Homo sapiens: one gene and its partners. The protein of the gene in region 1 purifies or fractionates together with the protein of each later gene. This does not show direct contact. Each region holds a gene or a part of one and is shown in the gene's direction. Other genes may lie near its edges. The genes, in order: SPDL1, ATXN2L, DBF4B, U2SURP, SULT1C2, SPTBN1 and KCNAB3.

Evidence for each region.
Region 2: the proteins of SPDL1 (region 1) and ATXN2L purify together in Homo sapiens (affinity purification with mass spectrometry, with the first as the bait; one large-scale study listed by BioGRID). This does not show direct contact.
Region 3: the proteins of SPDL1 (region 1) and DBF4B purify together in Homo sapiens (affinity purification with mass spectrometry, with the first as the bait; one large-scale study listed by BioGRID). This does not show direct contact.
Region 4: the proteins of SPDL1 (region 1) and U2SURP purify together in Homo sapiens (affinity purification with mass spectrometry, with the first as the bait; one large-scale study listed by BioGRID). This does not show direct contact.
Region 5: the proteins of SPDL1 (region 1) and SULT1C2 purify together in Homo sapiens (affinity purification with mass spectrometry, with the first as the bait; one large-scale study listed by BioGRID). This does not show direct contact.
Region 6: the proteins of SPDL1 (region 1) and SPTBN1 purify together in Homo sapiens (affinity purification with mass spectrometry, with the first as the bait; one large-scale study listed by BioGRID). This does not show direct contact.
Region 7: the proteins of SPDL1 (region 1) and KCNAB3 purify together in Homo sapiens (affinity purification with mass spectrometry, with the first as the bait; one large-scale study listed by BioGRID). This does not show direct contact.

What each region holds. Positions count from the first base shown.
Region 1 is NC_000005.10:169,600,773-169,603,025, forward strand, and holds part of SPDL1 (protein Spindly), read left to right. Parts: intron 1-507; coding exon 508-853; coding exon of another isoform or gene 854-1,052; exon of another isoform or gene 1,053-2,253. UniProt on the Homo sapiens protein: Required for the localization of dynein and dynactin to the mitotic kintochore.
Region 2 is NC_000016.10:28,832,999-28,835,365, forward strand, and holds part of ATXN2L (ataxin-2-like protein), read left to right. Parts: intron 1-60; coding exon 61-356; intron 357-440; coding exon 441-510; intron 511-1,066; coding exon 1,067-1,213; intron 1,214-1,344; coding exon 1,345-1,417; intron 1,418-1,507; coding exon 1,508-1,695; intron 1,696-2,059; coding exon 2,060-2,189; intron 2,190-2,279; coding exon 2,280-2,367. UniProt on the Homo sapiens protein: Involved in the regulation of stress granule and P-body formation.
Region 3 is NC_000017.11:44,749,715-44,752,764, forward strand, and holds the end of DBF4B (protein DBF4 homolog B), read left to right. Parts: exon of another isoform or gene 1-833; intron 834-880; coding exon 881-1,539; 3' UTR 1,540-2,225; coding exon of another isoform or gene 2,226-2,249; 3' UTR 2,250-2,550; downstream 2,551-3,050. UniProt on the Homo sapiens protein: Regulatory subunit for CDC7 which activates its kinase activity thereby playing a central role in DNA replication and cell proliferation. Required for progression of S and M phases.
Region 4 is NC_000003.12:143,053,570-143,057,069, forward strand, and holds part of U2SURP (U2 snRNP-associated SURP motif-containing protein), read left to right. Parts: intron 1-106; coding exon 107-225; intron 226-1,373; coding exon 1,374-1,550; intron 1,551-2,742; coding exon 2,743-2,881; 3' UTR 2,882-3,500.
Region 5 is NC_000002.12:108,308,155-108,310,415, forward strand, and holds the end of SULT1C2 (sulfotransferase 1C2), read left to right. Parts: intron 1-197; coding exon 198-310; 3' UTR 311-1,761; downstream 1,762-2,261. UniProt on the Homo sapiens protein: Sulfotransferase that utilizes 3'-phospho-5'-adenylyl sulfate (PAPS) to catalyze the sulfate conjugation of phenolic compounds. Does not transfer sulfate to steroids, dopamine, acetaminophen, or alpha-naphthol.
Region 6 is NC_000002.12:54,641,327-54,644,826, forward strand, and holds part of SPTBN1 (spectrin beta chain, non-erythrocytic 1), read left to right. Parts: intron 1-1,656; coding exon 1,657-1,803; intron 1,804-2,996; coding exon 2,997-3,260; intron 3,261-3,500. UniProt on the Homo sapiens protein: Fodrin, which seems to be involved in secretion, interacts with calmodulin in a calcium-dependent manner and is thus candidate for the calcium-dependent movement of the cytoskeleton at the membrane.
Region 7 is NC_000017.11:7,921,359-7,924,107, reverse strand, and holds the end of KCNAB3 (voltage-gated potassium channel subunit beta-3), read left to right. Parts: intron 1-45; coding exon 46-140; intron 141-276; coding exon 277-397; intron 398-476; coding exon of another isoform or gene 477-563; coding exon 564-652; intron 653-928; coding exon 929-1,006; coding exon of another isoform or gene 1,007-1,263; 3' UTR 1,264-2,249; downstream 2,250-2,749. UniProt on the Homo sapiens protein: Regulatory subunit of the voltage-gated potassium (Kv) channels composed of pore-forming and potassium-conducting alpha subunits and of regulatory beta subunit. The beta-3/KCNAB3 subunit may mediate closure of potassium channels.

The sequences.
Region 1 (2,253 bases):
ATTACCAATATTCAGAAAGTTTGGCCTATTCTTGTCATTTAATCCTTCTAATACACAATACCAAGTGAAGTGGGTGCTTTTAATCCCCATTTTACAGATAAAATGAAGCTCAGAGAGGTTAAATAATTCCCCAAAGACATGGCTGTCACATACGAGGATTAGGATTCGAACCTGGACTCTGCCGCTGTCTCTTCATCTCCACACTGAGATCTTATGAACCACCTTTTTCAAAACACCAAGAGAGAACAGTGAAGCATTCATGCCTAAAGTCAAAATATTGAATTCCCAAGGAAAAATATATAGCCAAATAAACTTTAAAATATATAGTTTATATAGATTCCATGATAAAGAATAAAAGGTAGAAACAAAGGATGCATTTCAGTGAGGAGATGGTTGCATTTTAAAAGAATGGAAAAAGGTATACATATAACTAGTTCTGGCTTCTTGTGTTGATTGTGTCTTTGTTTTCTTAGATTTTTTCTTTTCCCCACTCGTTTTTATTCTCAGAGACAGTTGAAGTGCCTGTACTGAAAAAGAGGCGTGAGGTGCTCCCTGTGGATATAACCACCGCTAAAGATGCATGTGTCAACAACAGTGCTCTCGGGGGAGAAGTTTATCGATTACCGCCTCAGAAAGAGGAGACACAGTCCTGCCCTAACAGTTTAGAAGATAACAACTTGCAATTAGAAAAATCAGTTTCTATATACACACCAGTAGTCAGTCTCTCTCCTCACAAAAATCTGCCCGTGGATATGCAGCTGAAGAAGGAAAAGAAATGTGTGAAACTCATAGGAGTTCCCGCTGACGCTGAGGCCTTAAGTGAAAGAAGTGGAAACACCCCTAACTCTCCCAGGTCAGTGTCCTCTTTTCCTCCAGGCAGCCAGCAGACCTCTCCATCTCTCCTCTCTCGCTGCATGAACTGTGCTGTCTGTTTCTTTATCTACTTTCTTACAATTGCATGCAGTATAATTCCTCAGTTTCATCTACCTACCTTCAACTTTTCCAGAACTTTAAGAAAGACTAAACTGATTGCAAAGGGAAAGGACTCTTGAATAAGGCAATCACATTAAAAAGTTACACGTTTCTGTTTCATGAAAGGGAATATCACAGTTTAACACATCTCTGAATGTTTTATCAGTTTGAATACATGTACTGTTATTTTTCTCCTGGTTCAAGCATGGCCATGAAAGAAAAATTAACTTACTTTCTCAAAGGGCTTTCCAGTAGTCTAAGAAATTTCAGCCTTCTAGGAAACTTAGGTGAATTTTTTATGTCTTTTGAATTGCTTATCCTAGGCATTCAAAAATGGGCTTCAATACTTATTTTGACATTTTTACATATCAAAGCTAACTCATTTTCATTGTTTCCAAAACTTGAAAGCCTCTAGTTTCTGCATAATTGAGTTTGTGACTAAAAGAAATAGCGTCAGATATGTGTGTCTGAAGGAATTAATGTCCCAAGGGCTTTGTCTTAATAAAAATAATTGAGGTCAGAAGGTAAGAGAAAGTGAATGGAAGGGAAAGGTAAGTAGCAGTGGCTGAGGCTCGAGTTCTGGATGTGCGCAGCAGGAGAAGTGAATGAGGAAATTGAAGAAAGTAAAAGAAAGATGAAGGATGTCTGCATGCAATGGGATTGTTAGAGGCATTTAAAACAAATATCTAGACATTCAAAAAGATGTGCCAATAACTAGCCTAGATTATCTCCTATGAAATGAGATGTTGAAGGTGCTACTAGGGCTACCTTAGTCTTAGAGAGTGGAGACAGATTAATAAGACATTTTACTAATGTGCATTTGAGTAGAGAGAGTAAGACAGCCCTGTTTAAAAGGGCTTATATGTTTTATCTGATTTCTCTCCAAGTCTTCAGTGCTACTAAATGTAATATTCAACAGTAAAAGCACTTTAACAATGTTAGCTGCTATTATTATAAGGCATAGTAATTTTATTACTCCCTCCTTGGATTTTTATAGAATGTTATAACCTCTGAGTCACATAAAATAAAAGCTTACCATTCTTAAGGAAAAAGTAACTTCAAATGAGTATCTGCCACATACCCATGGTTTCAAAGAGTTCTGAAATGAATCCAGCAGATTATGCCTGTTTATATGTGATGCATTGTATAAACATCCTTGACCAGTGTATATTTCTGGAGGTGGATTTCCAGAATTGATAAGTGCCAGCCTTGCTATCTGTATTGTCTTCATTCCTTTTTCTGCCTTTTTTTGCTTGATAAAAAATCACTTAAGCAAATGTA
Region 2 (2,367 bases), on another chromosome or scaffold:
AGAAGAAAGCCAGGACTAGGGTCTGGGTCAGACTGGACTGTGTGTGTTTCTCTCTTCCAGCTTCAGCCCAGTAGCTCCCCTGAGAACAGCCTGGATCCTTTTCCTCCCCGGATCTTAAAGGAGGAGCCCAAAGGAAAGGAGAAAGAGGTTGATGGTCTGTTGACTTCAGAGCCCATGGGGTCTCCCGTCTCCTCCAAGACAGAGTCCGTATCGGATAAGGAGGACAAACCACCCCTGGCACCATCAGGAGGCACTGAGGGGCCAGAGCAGCCCCCACCACCTTGTCCAAGCCAAACTGGCAGCCCCCCGGTGGGCCTCATCAAGGGAGAAGACAAAGATGAGGGCCCTGTTGCTGAGTGAGTGGAGCGGGGTGGGGCTCTGGGAGGATGGCAGGAGGGATGAGAGCAAGCCGTGAAGATTTACTGTACTTTCTCTCACAGACAAGTAAAGAAATCAACGTTGAACCCTAATGCTAAGGAGTTCAATCCTACAAAGCCTCTGCTGTCTGTGGTGAGCTGGGACAGGAGAATGTGGACTTTGGTTTCTGTGGGGAGACTTGGGCAGTGCTTATAGATGAATAGGGGGAGGAACACTTCACTTCCAGGACCACTTGCCTGGCAGGCAGTGTGAGGAGATGTCATAAAAATGTAAGGATGGCACCTTTGGGGCTGGCTTGGGGAAAATGGACTCAGGTCTCTAGGTTTGGGTGATCAGGGGATCAGGGATCCCAGTGAGTCTGATGAGGGGTTAACAGGCTTTTCTTTGGTTCTTGGCATTTGGCTGAGGGAGTATTGGAGTGGGGTAGTCATGAACAGAGGCCAGCTGACTTGGCTTGAGCCCCTGTATTTGGAAGGTTTGTGATCTTGGACGTCACTTACATTCTCTGCCTCACCTGTAACTTTAGAATACTCATCTCCTCATAGGGTTTAATGTGAGGCTTTATCAAGATAAGTGCAGAATATGTTTGGTATGCAGCATTTCACGAATGTTAATTATTACCACTCTAGGCATGGCCAGGAGTAGAGGGGAAAATACAAAATAAAATTGTCCTCCCTTGTTTTTGCAGAATAAATCCACCAGTACCCCAACTTCTCCGGGGCCCCGGACTCATTCAACTCCCTCCATCCCGGTGCTGACAGCAGGCCAGAGTGGGCTATACAGCCCCCAGTACATCTCCTACATACCTCAGATCCACATGGGACCAGCTGTGCAGGTATGCAGAGAGACTGGCCGGGCCCAGGGTTAGCGGGGTGGGATTTGGTTGCGCTGGTTGAGGGACCAGGTCAGGCCTGTCTGGGCATTCGTGAGCGAGTCATTCAGCCTCATCTGTGTCCTCATCCCCAGGCACCTCAGATGTATCCATATCCTGTATCCAATTCAGTGCCTGGGCAGCAGGGCAAGTACCGGGGAGCAAAAGGTGAGCAGGGCTGGGAGGGGCAGGCGGCGAGGCTGCCAAGGGCCTACTGGCAGGTGGAGCTTGAGCTCTCCTCTCCTCCTCCTCTTCCAGGCTCCCTTCCTCCGCAGCGCTCGGACCAACACCAGCCAGCCTCAGCCCCGCCGATGATGCAGGCCGCCGCGGCTGCTGGCCCGCCTCTGGTGGCTGCCACGCCCTATTCTTCCTACATCCCCTACAACCCTCAGCAGTTCCCAGGCCAGCCAGCCATGATGCAGCCCATGGCCCACTACCCCTCACAGGTGACTGCGGCCCAGGAGGGCAGTGAGGATCCAGGGCCCCTGCTAGGGATCCCATCTTCTCCAGAGACTTGGGAGCTGGCTAGGGGTGGCAGGCAGTGTTGTAGGTGGGATCGGCCCTCTGTGGTATTGGCGGTGTCAGACTTGGGCTTGAGCCCTGGCTCTGGTGGTACCTGTAACAAGGCATTGGACATCTGTATCTCTGAAGTGTAGAGAAAATAGTGTCTGCTGGGTGGGATCGTTATGAATGTTGAATCAATAGGGTGATTGTGAGGAGGCCCAAGCGGTGCTGTGCACGCAGTGACTGGCAGGAGGACACCTTCCCAGCTGGCGGCTGTGCCAACCACTCCTCTCTCTGTCCCGCCAGCCGGTGTTTGCCCCCATGCTTCAGAGCAACCCACGCATGCTGACGTCGGGCAGCCATCCCCAGGCCATCGTGTCATCCTCTACCCCTCAGTACCCTTCTGCAGAGCAGCCTACCCCCCAAGCCCTTTATGGTGAGTCCTGCGCCTGGTCCCTCTGCTCTGGGCTGTGTGCCAGCCCCCTCTGGTGTGCTCAGCACTGGTTCTCCCTCTTTCCTGCTGCAGCCACTGTTCACCAGTCCTACCCACACCATGCCACACAGCTCCATGCCCACCAGCCGCAGCCGGCTACCACGCCTACTGGAAGCCAGCC
Region 3 (3,050 bases), on another chromosome or scaffold:
GGAGCTGGGGCAGCAGGAGTCCTGGCCCGGCTTCCTGGCCCTCCACAGGCCCTTGCCTCTCTGCAGAGCCGCGGGTTAGCTGTTGGTGTGCTCCACCCCCAACCCCGGCCTCCTTTCTCACGAGCATGTGGCCGCTCCTGCTTTCCAAAATGACTGTGTTTGTCCCCTCCCCCAGCCCCCCACGCTCCCGCACACAGATCCTCAGGAACATATGAAGCAGAGGAGGGGCTTGGGCTGCACCACTCACAGAGCTCCCTCCCCCAGGCACTTAGTTGGGGCCCAGCACTGACCTTTCCCCTGAGCCCAGGATGTGGCCAGAGCCCCCTCTGGGACCCCTCTCGCCCCTTCTCTGCCTCCTCAGCTTGAGCTGCCTGCCCGAAGTTCGGCTGTTCCGGGGCCAGTGTGTCACCTGCCAACTTCCACATCACCCTCCTCCCTCGCTCCCTCCTCTCCTTCCCCAAGGACCTCCCCCCATTTCTGGCAGCCAAGCCATTAATCTGGAGACAGAAATGGGTTTGCTATCGATTCTCTGGCCACTTTTTCTTTCATTACAATTTGTACCGTGATTCTTCTCACCCTTCTCTGCGTCCGTGCATTTAAAGAGTTGTCTCTTTAAATGTTGAAGCTTCCGGAAGCCTGATGCTATTCTGTGTCTCCTTTCAAAGGAAGAAGGGGGGGCCCAGCTATGGGTGAGGACTCAAGTTATTAGTTTGGAAATAGAGCAACTATGTGTACAGCCCACCTTAGAGGTCATGTTACCCCCTTCCTGTTAAATTTTACAATTAATTTTGGTTCAGGAAATGTAAATAAATTTGTTAATTACAAATAGCAAAGAGATGGGGCTGGAATGCCATATGTCGGTCCTTGATCTGCCCTCCAGTGACCCAAGGCAGGGCTGCGGGCCAGCAGCGATGGACAGAATCACTAGATGGTGTGATGGGACCTCCTGCAAGTCACACATGTGTGAGTGCCACAACCCTCCTGCCGGCCTTGCCCAAGGGCTCCAGGGAGCAGGGCTGCCTCTGTCCCTGCCCAGCCTCCTTTACCCAGTCTCATCTGGTCACTTCCTTGGCTCTGCTGCCTGGGGAGTGGTCGCCTGCAGAGGACATGCCCCTCCATCCCTCCCAAGAAAACTCCTTTGCCCCGGCGGACATTCCTGTTAAGGGCCCACTCCTCTTCCCTGAAGCCAGACCGTGGCTTATGTCTGCACGCTGCTGGGTTCGTCCCTTTCCTTTTGTGACATGGGGTTGCCTCATTCCCCATGACACCACCCCTCTGCATGAGGAAGTTTCCCCTTGCCCCTGTCTCAGACTTGGATACCTTTACCTGCTGCTCACACAAAGCCTGTGGTGCCGGGTTCGGGTGCCCTCATTGTCAACTGCAGGACCCATTCCCCGAACCTCACATCCGTGTACCCTTGCCTTCCCCTCCTATCTCAATGATCATGACCTTGGACATCTCTGCCAGGCCAAACCCCAAGGCTGGAACACTCCTCAGCCATTTCTCCATTGCGGCTTCCTGGCTGTAGACTCAGGTTAGAGGTGAACCCAGAACACCTGAGACTTGACCCAGGATGGATGGGTGCTGCTTGATGTGAATGAGGTCCCGCAGTGGCTCCTTGGCGTGAGCACTGCTCAGACTCCTTTCCACTCCAGCCCCCTTTCCACATCGCACCAGATGACTTTTACCCAGACCCAGTGGGCATTGCCTTATCTTGCAGTCAGTCCCTTTTCAACATGTTGCCGTTTCTTTCTGAAGAGGTGTCCTCCCTCCACAAGTCACACTGTCTGTCCCTGGCCCTCCAGCCCACCTCGCCAACCACTCTTGTTGGTTTCCTTCTCAGACTTGCCACCTTTCCCCTCTGCCCCAAAATGCCATGCTCCTCTCCTGGAAAACACTTGAGTTGATTCAGTAAATCGACTTCAAATACTTGAAGGCTCCCACCTTCTGTTCTCTGGCTCCTTCCTGCGGTCTATACCTACCGCCTCCTCTTCACCTCCTTCCCTTCCACACTTCCTTCCTGGGTAGCTCTGCCTGAAGCATTCCACTAAGATCATCTATTCCAAGGTCATGGACAGGCTACTGGTGACCAAAGTTGGTTCCTTTTCTCCTTTCTTTCCTCCTTGAAGCCTGGCTCCCTTGGTCGCAGCAGCCCCTCAGTGGCCTGGTTCTCCTGTCCCCCTGCCCTTCCTCACCATTGCCCATTCCCTCGTTCGTTCATTCAGCACAGGCCTTGCCGTCTGCCCTGAGTCAGCTCCGAGACACCTGAAGAGCCCTCCAGCCCTAACTACTTTACTCAGACTAGGTCCCCAGGCCTTTGTTCTTGCCTCTTCTCGCTGAGCCTTTCACTTCTCGGCAGATGTGACCGATTGGTAGCTCCACCCCAACTCCCTTCTGCTGGGTGGAATGCAGGAGCTAGCTGCCTCCAACTCACTGTGACCTCAGAAAAATGCCTTTATTACTCGGGCCTCAGTTTCCTCGTCTTTAAGTAAGGGGCTTGGATGAGATGATTTCAGGACCCTTTCCAATAATAAAATACTGTGACTGCCAGCAAATCTTTTATGTCTTTCCCTATCCTGCCACCAGCAGGAGTGCTGTATACCCGAGCACTCCTTCTCATCCTGGATCTTGGCTCCCCTTCCCAGGGGAGTTTCAGCTGTGCCCAGCTCAAACTGTTTTCTTGATCTAAAAAATGGAGGTAATCTAGGCTGGGCACGGTGGCTCACGCCTGTAATCCCTGCACTTTGGGAGGCTGAGGCGGGCGGATCATTTGAGGTCAGGAGTTCGAGACCAGCCTGGCCAACATAGTGAAACCCCATCTCTACTAAAAATACAAAAGTTAGCCGGGCATGCTGGCATGCCTGTAATCCCAGCTACTCGGGAGGCTGAGGCAGGAGAATCACTTGAACCTGGGAGGCAGAGGTTGCAGTGAGCCGAGATTGTGCCACTGCACTCCAGCCTGGGCAACAGGGCGAGACTGTCTCGAAAATAAATAAATAAATAAATAAATACGAAAAATGGAGATAATCATAGTTGCTACCTCGCTAGGA
Region 4 (3,500 bases), on another chromosome or scaffold:
GTAATTTAAAAAATTATTTCCTGTAAGAGAAGATATTGTTCTATAAATGAGATTAACCCACATTGATATTTTTAAACAACTTAATATTTTCTATAAAAAATAACAGGAGAAAGAGAAAGAGTTAGAAAGAGAACGAGAAAGAGACAAGAAAGATAAAGAAAAATTGGAATCTCGCTCCAAAGACAAGAAGGAAAAAGATGAGTGTACTCCGACAAGGAAGGAAAGGTATAACATTTCTCATATTTAATTGCATATACTGGTTTCAAGATTTGCAGTGGTGTTTTATAATACTTTCATCATTGATGCCCGCAAACTGGAAGTGTTTGTTCATGATAAACTTGTTTGGGTCCTGCTTGCAGAAGGCAGAAATAGCGGAGAAATGGGGCATTTAGTTGGCACTTGACTTAGTTAACCAGGGCATCATCCCTTCACATGGTTTATATGGTATCCTTAGCCTTAGTTCAGTGCAAGGATTCAATTACAGTATTAGATATCAAACCTGAGGTTTAAGTAACAAAACAACTTGCTAGATTTTCCTTGTTGCATCCAATTTAAGCATATTTTCCAGTATCTGTGCTGAGGCTGCTACTTGTAAACTTGAGTCTTAGTCTTATCTTGAAAGGAGGTTGTATACATAGGCCAAAGCTCACCTTAAGTCTTCATTCTAATCAAAAGCATTTCTCTTTCAGTTTTTATGTCTTACTCTCACGGTTCCTAAATCTCTGATTGAGTAAAGAAAATTGTTTCCCTTAACTGAACTGAGGTTTTCCTAATAAAAAGACCAAGCCATTGCAAATAAAAGTCTAGCTTAGTCACGCTACAGATAGTTACAAATAACAAGTTATGCCAATTGGTTAAAAGTCTGTCACTTTTTTGACTTTTATTACTATTTTGACATAGTTTTAGATTTATAGGAAAGTTGCAAGAATAGTATAATTGATAGTTACCCTTCACCCACATTACCCAAATGTTAAAGTATTTCTACTTTTGCTTTATTCTTCCTCTTCTGTCCCACCTCCAACCATTTAAGAATAATTTGCCAACATGATGCCCCATTCTCTTAACCACATTCAACATTTTAAAAAACTGATATTTAATCCAGAGACCTTAATTAGATTTTGCCAGTTGTTTCAATAACCTCTTATTGCAAAGAGAAAATCCAATTTAGTTGAATTCAGTTGTTGTCTCTTGACAACCTATCTTTAACACTTATTTGTTCTTGTTACAAAGGACTTTGAGTATTGTTAAAAGTAACATTACATGGTTAGAATAAAAGAGTAAGCTGGTAGCAATTAATAGCTAATTTAGTAAAGGAAAATGAATACCCGATCCTTTGCTCATTTATGGAATGTTTTGGGGGCTTTGTTCCATAGGAAGAGGCGACACAGTACATCCCCCAGCCCATCTCGCAGTAGCAGTGGTAGACGAGTGAAATCCCCATCACCAAAATCGGAGCGATCAGAGCGTTCAGAAAGATCTCATAAAGAGAGCTCACGGTCCAGGTCATCTCACAAAGATTCTCCTAGAGATGTTAGCAAAAAAGCCAAAAGGTAAATGCAAGTCATTTTTGCTAATATTTCAGATACCAGTTTCCTTGTCATTTCATCAGCTTTTGAAAATAATTTGGTTGGCATACATTTTTTTTTTTTTTTAAGGATTTTAGAAAACCAAAGAGATACACTTTCATTTTTGGTTATTCCTCCCCACCTCCTCATCCCAATCTCTTTCATGACTGAAGTGAAGGCTTCCAACAAGTGAGGACCAGCCAAGAATTTTAAACATCATATCCAATGTTTTCTGTGGAATAGGGTTAGCTGCTTTACTTTTCGTTCTGTTCTTTAGTTTCTATAGAATATTATTTGATTTTTGTCAAAGCTGAAAGAAACACACATTTTTCCCCCATAGCAATATTATTAGCAAGTTCTTGGGTAGATATTTTTGGAAATACATATCATGAATACCATTTTTTCAGTATGTATTTTAGTATTTTGTATACTTTTTTTTCCTTTAGTTCCAGAAAAATGGTTCAGAAATGTTTTATTTATCTGGTGATACATAGAGGAATTTTCCTGAGAGCTAAAACTGCTTTGTATGCTAATACTTTATTATTGTAACTATTTTTAGTAAAATCTTTACAGAATAGATACCTTTCTCCTTTTCTAAATGGCACCTGTATATATATGTATGTATGTGTTATATATGTATGTATATGTACATGTATCTTTATTGGTTTAAGTAATCCTTCATGAACAGCACTTACAAAATTATGTCTTAAATGATGCCCTTGAATGATACTGCAGTAGTTGTTTGCTTCAGGATGATAAACTTCAAAGCTGCTGTGTTTTTTAAATTTTGTGCATGATCTTAGGTGCAACTTTGAACTTTATCTTGTAGATTAAAGGTTCAAATTTGGGGGTTATCAGTCACTTATGGAGCTTGTTAAAAATGCAAATTCTTAGTTCCATCCTCCAGAGATTTTGATTCAGTAGAGCAGTGATAAGGCACAGAAATCTGTCTTTATAAACAAGCGCTCTACTGATGATCATTGATGCAGTGCATAGTAAGTACAAAATAATCTGTGTGTGTGTGTGTACAATAGAGTTTAAATTTTAGAAGTTCATAGTCTTATTGCAGTGATTTTTCACTGTGCCCTGTTAAAGATCATTTTCGATCGTTTAAGGATAAACAGTTTTGATCACATGAGTACTTTATCAATTGGGATTTTTTTGTTTGTTTCCTTAGATCACCATCTGGTTCAAGGACACCTAAAAGGTCTAGGCGATCACGGTCTAGATCTCCTAAAAAATCAGGAAAGAAGTCCAGATCCCAGTCCAGATCTCCACACAGGTCTCATAAAAAGTCAAAGAAAAACAAACACTGACGTAAATTTTTAAGATGCTGTCACTTATTGGAAATGCGATTTGTTTTGTGCCTGAACGGTCTGTTTTTTAAAAAAACAAAAAATCAAATGAAAGAGCATTCCTGGGGTTTTTTGTTTGTTTGTGTATGCATGTGTAAACTCATGAGCAACTGCATCTGTAGATCTGTCATTGTTTTATATTGTGTAAATTACTTTCATTGTGGCTATTTCTCAAGATGAAATTTTTATTGTTCTAATGGATTTCATCAGAAATGTGTATAATGGATCTGCTGACAGTAGTAGTATTTTGTTTTAGGATGTTGTGACTTAGCAAAAATAATACAGATGTCTTCCCCCCTTTTGTAGCTTTGACAATTTGAATTAGATTTCAAATAAAATCTGAACAGAAAACTATAATGTTGTTTTTTTGCCCCACCGGTGATATTAAGTCCCTTAAAGTCCTACTGAGTTTCACACTACTGTTGTGCTTCTTATACCTGATGCACTTTATAAGCCCCAGTGTTCAAGTAGCTTAAGTTTTATATTTACTAAGATGACTATCCAAATTAAGGGACCTGAGACTCCTATTTGGTGGTTTGCTAACCATTTGCTTTTGATAAGTTTCTCTTGGGTAATACTA
Region 5 (2,261 bases), on another chromosome or scaffold:
TCCATCCCCCTGCACAGAGTCCCCTAGGCCTGCTTCTTATAGGAGAGCTGCTCATGGACAGGTGTCCACTGAAGGGGGAGTTGGGTGAGTCAGGTATGTGGACAGGCCAGATTCAGTATGGGCACTACACCACTTTACTCAGGGACACCACATCTTTCAATCAGAGTGACACTCCTGTCTGGCCTTCCTTTTTCTAGGAACTGTGGGGGATTGGAAAAACCACTTCACTGTTGCCCAGAATGAGAGGTTTGATGAAATCTATAGAAGAAAGATGGAAGGAACCTCCATAAACTTCTGCATGGAACTCTGAGCAAGATGTAAATAAAATTAAAAGGTGGATGGCAAGAGTGCAAATACTATCTTCAATCCTTCAGTCCCAGCCAGAAGAATCTCTGAAAGCATATTGTGAATGTATACAATGTAGTACAAACAATCTCTGTGATGATTAACAGTATGTCACCACTTCATTTTTTAAAAAGGATCACGTCTAATGCCCATTTTCCCAACTATTCTTTCCAAAGTAAGATATAAGGTAGCTTAATAAACTAAGTAAAACGTATGACTTGAGTACAAAAGGATTGTTTTAATCCCCATTATTCTGGAAAGTGCATCCTAGTCTCCCAGTCTATAACATCATAATACCTTGAGTATAAGTCCAAATATTAGGTTATATCTATATTAAAAACAAAATTTCTGTCATCTGTCCTGGCCATTCAGGCAACTCCAGCCTGGGCTCAATCCTGGAGTTCTGTCTGGTCACTATCAGAAGGAACACTTTGAGGGAAACCCTGGTGCAGCCAGCCCTGAGGAAACATGGCCTGAGTGCCCTCACTGGTGGGTGGGAATAAAATGGAAGTGCACAGAGGAGATGTCAGAAGACCAAAACTTGGTGAATAGTCCCAGTGCTAGGTCATATAGGAAACAGAAAGCATGACAGTGGCCTTTTGGGAACCCAAGTTACGTCCTGGTGAAAGCAGAAAGGAGGAGACAGGATGGCTGTCAACAACGTCAGCATGGGCATGGCTCCCAGGCATGGAGGTAATTGGGTCTTGGCTTCAATGCCACCCTTTTGGGAAGCCCTAAACCAAGTGAGGTGTTCTTTTCCCTTGCTTCCCATATTTGTCCCAGTTGCAGCCCTGTTGTTATGTATTTACTCTTCAATTTCTTATTTATACCTCTCACTCAATTGTTAATTCTTTGGGTTCAGTCTCATGCCATATTTACTCCTAGTACCTAATGCAGTGCCTGGCACACAGCAAGTGCCCTTGAGAACTTGTAGAGGGAGTAAAAAAGTGCATGGATAAATGACTGCAGCAAATCACAAATTTTGAACTTTGACCCTTTTCTTTTAGTCCCAAATAGTGGCATTCCATAGCTGAGGGTAGTAGGAGCAGTTCACCCTGGGAGCAGACAATAAGAGGAAGAATGAAGCCAACTAAAATTCTGAATGCTTTTTGTTGGATTTCGTAGGGTATTTTTTTTAAAATAGGGTCTTGCTATGTTGCCCAGGCTGGTCTTAACTGACTGCTTTTTATTATTACCATGCACTGGCAATTCCAAACAATGTCAGTGTTAAAATGCTTCTCCCTGAAAAAGAGAAAAAAAAAAGGAAAAAAAGAAAAGAAAAGTGAAAAGAAAAACTCTTATTGGCCTAAGTTCTAAATAATAGCTAGGTTACCACTGAGTTTTAACTATATGTATATGAGCTTCAAATAAGCACCTTTTTATTATGTAAATAAATAAAAGTTATCTGTATCCCCACTGCATTGTAAAATTTTTGTTGTTTTGTTTCATGTCTTATTCACCTTTGTATGGAAATTAATTCAGAAACCCCAAGCATAGAGTCTACCTCTTTAATTCCAGCAGGCAGATGTAGTTCTGCCTGCTTCCTTCCAAGGTTAAGTTCATAACAGTTCAGAATCTTGCAAGCTCACTTCAGGTATAACCTGTGTCTCCAACCCTGCAGTATTTGGATATTGCTGTTTAAACAGTAGATTTGGCATAGATGATGGTGGCACAATGGTTGTAAAGGAAAAGAAGCAGAACACCTCAGTTTGTTCAATTCTCTCATTGGGGTTTTCAGTTGTATCCAGAATTTAAAACAGTAAAATTTAAGAGTGTGAACAGCAACATTCACACTTTGTTTAGTAAGTACAAAGTTGTGCTCATACAGGAAGTTTACTGACTTTGAATAATAACTTTAAAAACAAAATTTACTCTTTTCTAAGTGTTAATTATTTGTTTTAAAATTTAAGAATGAA
Region 6 (3,500 bases), on another chromosome or scaffold:
GGTAAGTGGTTATGAATAGCGAAAATATGTGAATGTCCTTGGCACTTTGAATCAATAAATGCCTTCTGTTTTGTGTGTATGTACAGAATACTGGGAAAAATTTTGTCATTAAGTTTTACTTTAACTTCTTTTCCCCTAAGATTGAATAGCCATAGTCTTTCAGATTTTAGCTGCCCAGATAACTGGAACATAGATAATTTTTTCCAAGTAGGAAGTGCGTGCCTTTATTGTCTAATAGATCCATGGTCTTTGATGACAAAGGACTTTATGAGATTTGCTAGTTTTTCCCTCAACAAAGAGTGAAATCAAAAATCTCACTACCTTTTGCTTTTAACCCCCTCCCACCCCCGCCCCCTGCCCCATTCCCTGTGTGGTGAATAGCCTGAGAATAGGGACAGTGCCCAAGAGTTCACCCACTTTCAGAGCCAGAGGGCTCCTGTGACCCACGTCGCTCTCCTTGACATCATTTCCAAAAAACAAATCTCGGGGAGCCTTTCCTGGCAGCAGCCCACAGTGGGAGTGGAAGGGCCTTGGAAGTGTTAATTCTGTAAGTACTTCTACTGGTTTTATGTGTCACTTCTAGATCTTTGTTGGTAGAACCATGAAGGATTTAAGGTGCCAATTTGTTGTGACAATAACTGGTGTAAAAGTGGGCTTCTCACGGTCACTCAGGAGAAGGGACATGGTCCCTTCAGTTGGTTACTTCTGATTCCAGGCTGGCTCTGCATTCTTTTGTGTATCTTCAGCCTGGGCAAACAAAAAGCTCTTCCTAGGTTAGCAAAGCAAATGGGGCGGGAATCAGGACTCTGGCATGGCCCTTACAGGCAGGCAGTAATGAGCCAGGGCCGATTCGGGATGGAAGCCAGCAAAAGTGGGTCTGGGCCTGGCGTTTGGCTGACCCCGGTAAGAGAGCTCCTTTCTCAGGTCTGTCAGCGGCCAGCAGCCTTTGTGCGGCTCTCTAGAGTTCAGATCCAAGCAGACATGTTGGGTCTCAAAATCAAGTCCTGTGAAGTGTTCTTGGTGTGAATGAAAGGTTCTTTAGAGAACTAGAGGCTATAGAAAAAGAGGTGAAGGTGACTCAAACTTGAAGGAAACATTGAAAGGGCATGATTGTTGCCTTAGCCCTACAGTGAGCAAGTTATTTATGCCTTTTTGCATTCCCTTCGATGCACCCACAAAAAGGGGGAGGTAATAAATAAGTAGTTTTTTTTTTTTTTTTTTAATAAAAAGAACTAAGAGAGTAAGAAGGATTGCCAAATGGAGTAAAAGTCAATCATGATTAACATGGTATAGCTGACACAGGTATTTGGAAGAGAAAAAGAGTCATGTCTTGGAGTGGTTAGGGTAGAATTTTAAACACGGGCCTTTTGTGGGGAAAGCCAGTTATGAGTGCCAAACAGTTTGAAAACTGGCTTATAGAGCTTTTGTACTTCTGGAATGAATGTTAGATATAGTTTGGAGCAGAGCTCAGGTACAAGCTCCATCTAATGGACACCTGTCATGACGGGTCAGAGTTGTGAAGTTAAATATTTGGTTGTCTGTCACCATGGAAACGTGTGTAGTATGCATAATATGACATAAACACAACCCTTTCCAGGCGGAAAAAAGGCTGATGTCTAGGATCACAATCTCTGAATCCTTCTGATCTTTCTGTAGCTGTCTCTCTGGATCAATGAGAAGATGCTCACAGCCCAGGACATGTCTTACGATGAAGCCAGAAATCTGCACAGTAAATGGTTGAAGCATCAAGCATTTATGGCAGAACTTGCATCCAACAAAGAATGGCTTGACAAAATCGAGAAGGTGAGTTAAAACATTTGATGTGGCCATGGTGAGAAAACAAACAGGGTAGTAATAAACTCCTTTTTATTTAGCACATTTTCCAGCATATCTGATCTTATCTGTACATTTACGTAAGTTACACAGCCAGTAATAGCTCCCTTTGCACGTACGGGTTCCTGACTTCAACCCATCAAAAGGGAAAAAAGCAGAAACCCAACCAGTTAGTAGAAAATGCTTGATTTATCGTAGAACGAATACTAGGCATTTAGTTTCTGTTGTGCCTCTCATCTGCTGTTGCTGATGGACTGTGAGCTCTCATGCAGGGATTCCACTGTCTTGATCATATTATTTGTGTTGTACTGTGACAGATTGCACATAATTTTAAATATATACATATTTTTTAAAATTGCTTTTTCCTATGAGACTACTGTATACCAGGCGCTATAATAATTACTATGATGTGTTATTCTTGCACAGAGAGATTCTGGGCAGCATAACTGAAGATGAATATGGAGTCCCCCCCTTCCCCCCGACTTCTCTCCTTTTAGACTTTTTATAGTGTTTCAGATTCTTCACGGTTAAAATAATGTGTTGGCAGGGCACGGTGGCTCATGCCTGTAATCCCAGCACTTTGGGAGGCCAAGGCAGATGGATCACTGGAGGCCAGGAGTTTCAGACCAGCTTGGCCAACATGGTGAAACCCCATCTCTATGAAGCATACAAAAATAGCCAGGCCTGGTGGTATGTGCCTGTAATCGCAGCTATTGGGGAGGCTGAGGCACGAGCCCAGGAGGCAGAGGTTGCAGTGAGCTGAGATCACGCCACTGTACTTCAGCCTGGGTGATAGAACGAGACTCTGTCTCAATATAATAACAATAATAATAATAATAATAATAATAATAATGTGTTGTATATCATCTTTGGTCATGGAATGGAGGAGATAAAGTCACGTTATTAGCATTCAGTATTCCGTTGCCCCAGTTGAGACTATTTCAGCATGTAACATTTATTGCTTAATTCCCATGAAACCCTTGTAATGTACACAACCTAGGGGTCGTTGTTGATTTTATTGAGCAGTAACTTCATGTGGAAAGACTGTGTGTATTGAGTGAATGGTTAAATCACAGATCAAATGTCCTAGGTTTGTTTTTCACAGTGACATTTTTTCTGTAGCAAACTTGTTTATTTACAACCATGTTGGTTTTGTTTTCCAGGAAGGAATGCAGCTCATTTCAGAAAAGCCTGAGACGGAAGCTGTGGTGAAGGAGAAACTCACTGGTTTACATAAAATGTGGGAAGTCCTTGAATCCACTACCCAGACAAAGGCCCAGCGGCTCTTTGATGCAAACAAGGCCGAACTTTTCACCCAGAGCTGTGCAGATCTAGACAAATGGCTGCACGGCCTGGAGAGTCAGATTCAGTCTGATGACTATGGCAAAGACCTGACCAGTGTCAATATCCTGCTGAAAAAGCAACAGGCAAGTGGACAAGCCATCATGGACTTGGGTGTATTTCTGTTTTACAGCCATAGTCCTTAGAGTCTTTTCTCACCCACTGCATTATCAGGAGTCCACCTTCCATGGGAAGGCATTTTTAACCCAAAATATTACTTGCTCTAACAGCATCGTAGAACATTTCCAGAATAGAAAGACACTTGTCCAAACTAGAAAGACACAGTATTAGGAGTATTGGGTGTTGGCTGTCTGTGTATGGGATTG
Region 7 (2,749 bases), on another chromosome or scaffold:
TCCATGGCTAGGTCCTTTTCCTGACACCCAGTGTTCTTCCCTTAGGAGTTGGATCAGTCACTTGGTACCCTCTAGCCTGTGGTCTCATTACTAGCAAGTATGATGGGCGAGTCCCAGATACTTGCAGGGCCTCCATCAAGGTGAGATCTGGGGGCTCTCGATGGCAGGACTGGGCTATATGGGCTGCTTTGGGGGGAGTTACGGGGGGCTGCTTTGTGAGTGTGGTGGTGGTGGTGGTGATGGCGGGGTCTTCTGTTGATTCTTCTTGGCCTCCAGGGCTACCAGTGGCTCAAGGACAAAGTGCAGAGTGAAGATGGCAAGAAGCAACAAGCCAAAGTCATGGACCTTCTTCCTGTCGCTCACCAGCTGGGCTGCACCGTGGCCCAGCTTGCTATTGGTGAGACATTGCACCCTGCAGGGGCCCTGTCTCCTCCTGACATGCTCCCAAGCCCATCCTAAAACTGGTTTGTCCCTAGGGAGGACGCTTGTCTTCAGAGACACTTCTGAAATCTATGTGGTCACTGTTCCCCATCAGTCCTCTTTTTTTCCTCCTCTGGCCCCAGCGTGGTGTCTCCGCAGTGAGGGTGTCAGCTCTGTCTTGCTGGGGGTGTCGAGTGCGGAGCAGTTGATAGAACACCTGGGCGCGCTACAGGTGAGCCGGGGACTCAGAGGCAGAGCCTATCTGTCCCCCTCCCCAGGAGTCAAAGCCACGCTATCCAACCCAGGATGGCTCTATCAGGTCACCCACTACAAAGTCCTCACTTTGCAGGTGAGAGGTCCCAGGGCCGGAAAGCGAGGCACCGGCACAGCTGCGGCTCTTGCCTTGCCACTTGACCCCACTGTGGTGCTTCCCCGGCTACTGGAACCCCATGCCCTTTCTCAGTGACCCAGCATGGGCTGCCGTCGCCACCGTCCCACTCTCCTCCAGGTGCTGAGCCAGCTGACCCCGCAGACAGTGATGGAAATAGACGGGCTCCTGGGAAACAAGCCGCATTCCAAGAAGTAGTCTGTCGCGGGCGCAGGGACCCAACCCGGTGTCGCTGCACCCGCCCGAGCCCCGCTCCTCGCAGCCGCCTCTCCCGCTCCGGATCCCTCCACGCAGCGGCCGGAGCCAGACTAGCCCCGCCCACCAACGAGTCCCGGCTTCGAGTAGTGATACGCATGAACAAAGCCATATCCTTTTGCAGTGGGGTCGAGAGAGAAAGTAGCACGCCCGCCCCCTGCTGCGTCTTTCTAGGCCCTTCTTGCAAATCCCGGGCATGAGCTACTCGCCGTCGGCTCTCTGCCACTTCGTCTCGCTCCCTACTCTCCTCCCCTTATTCCCGAGGCCCAGAAAAGAAAACAAAAACAAAAACCCAGCACATACAAGAAACATACAGTGTACCTCAAAAGGGGCCCTTGAAATGTCATCAAAGGGTAATAACCTAGTGAGTGAGTTGTGATGTCATCTGGAACATAGGAAATGGGGCTCTTAGCGTATTCGGTACGAAGGAAGCCAGGCTGGTCCTGGCAGGAAGTAAATGATAATCTTTGGGAAACCAGGACCCTGCCTCCCAGCCCAGAGGTGGAGGAGGGCGGTCAGGGTGGGGTCTACAGTGGCACAGCACTGACAAAGGTAGAGGGAAATGTAATAGCACATCTACGCTGCAGTCTGGTGAAAGTGGCCGGGGTGGTCCTTGGAAAACAGTTGGGCTGTTCTTGGCAGGAATTAGTGACAGCCTTTCCGTCACGGGCAGGGACGCCTTGATTTAAAAAAAATAAATAAATAAAACGTCTGGGTATAGACTTTTGAGCCTTGAGCAGGGCCTCCTACCTGGCAGTGGGGAACTGCAGTCTTCCTCCTGGCAATAAACCTAAAGCAATAATGATGGCCCCTTCTCTGTAAGACTTCCCAGGTAACTGTAAATAAACCTCAGCTTGATCCTCACAGTGTCTAAAGTTGCAGGGGCTTGGGAGGTTAGGGTCACAGTCTCACTTGTCTGGCCCTCTCGCCCCCTAACATTAGAAATCTGCTAGCATTAGCTTTCTCTCCATTGCTCATTCACCTTGGTGACCCAGGCATCGGGCTCCTAGTCACTGTTCTCATCAAGGACCAAGACACCAGATACCCCAGGCCCCAGTTTTCTTCCTTCAGCTACCACATTCCTTAGAACCCAGAAATCTGGCTTCATAATTTTGTTCCTCCTCTTTCTATGAAAGACTTAGCTATCTGCCTTTATTTGTTTGTATTTAAAGTAATATTAGCCATACTTGTTCCTTGTACTTCTCATTTCTCTCTCGCTGGACACCCACACATATGCCAAGGAACCTGTGGCTGAGGGGGAGATGCTGTTCTGAGGTTGAGGCTTTGTGATTTGGTGGAGAGGTAAAGTGAAGAATGGTCTGAGGTTGAGGGAATACAGAGAGAAGGAAAGATGTTATCATTTCACTGGAACAGAATTGGGTGGAAAGTTACAACCTTAAAGATCACAAGGTAGAGGAGGATGAGCTCTGCCTTCCTTAAATACAACCTGCCCATCTCCCTTCTACCCGTCCTCATCCCGCCTTGATCCAAAAGCTGGGCAAGCAAAGTAAAACCAATTTCCAAAAGAGAAAAGTCAGCAGCATGCCATTTACTGGATTAGCAGCCAACTGCATCAACTAATTAATACTTAAATCCACCCCATCATCTCCCACTCATTTTGCAAGACTGTGGAGGAAACAAAGAAGTAAAATATATTACTAAACTATGATTAGTTATTCTGTAACA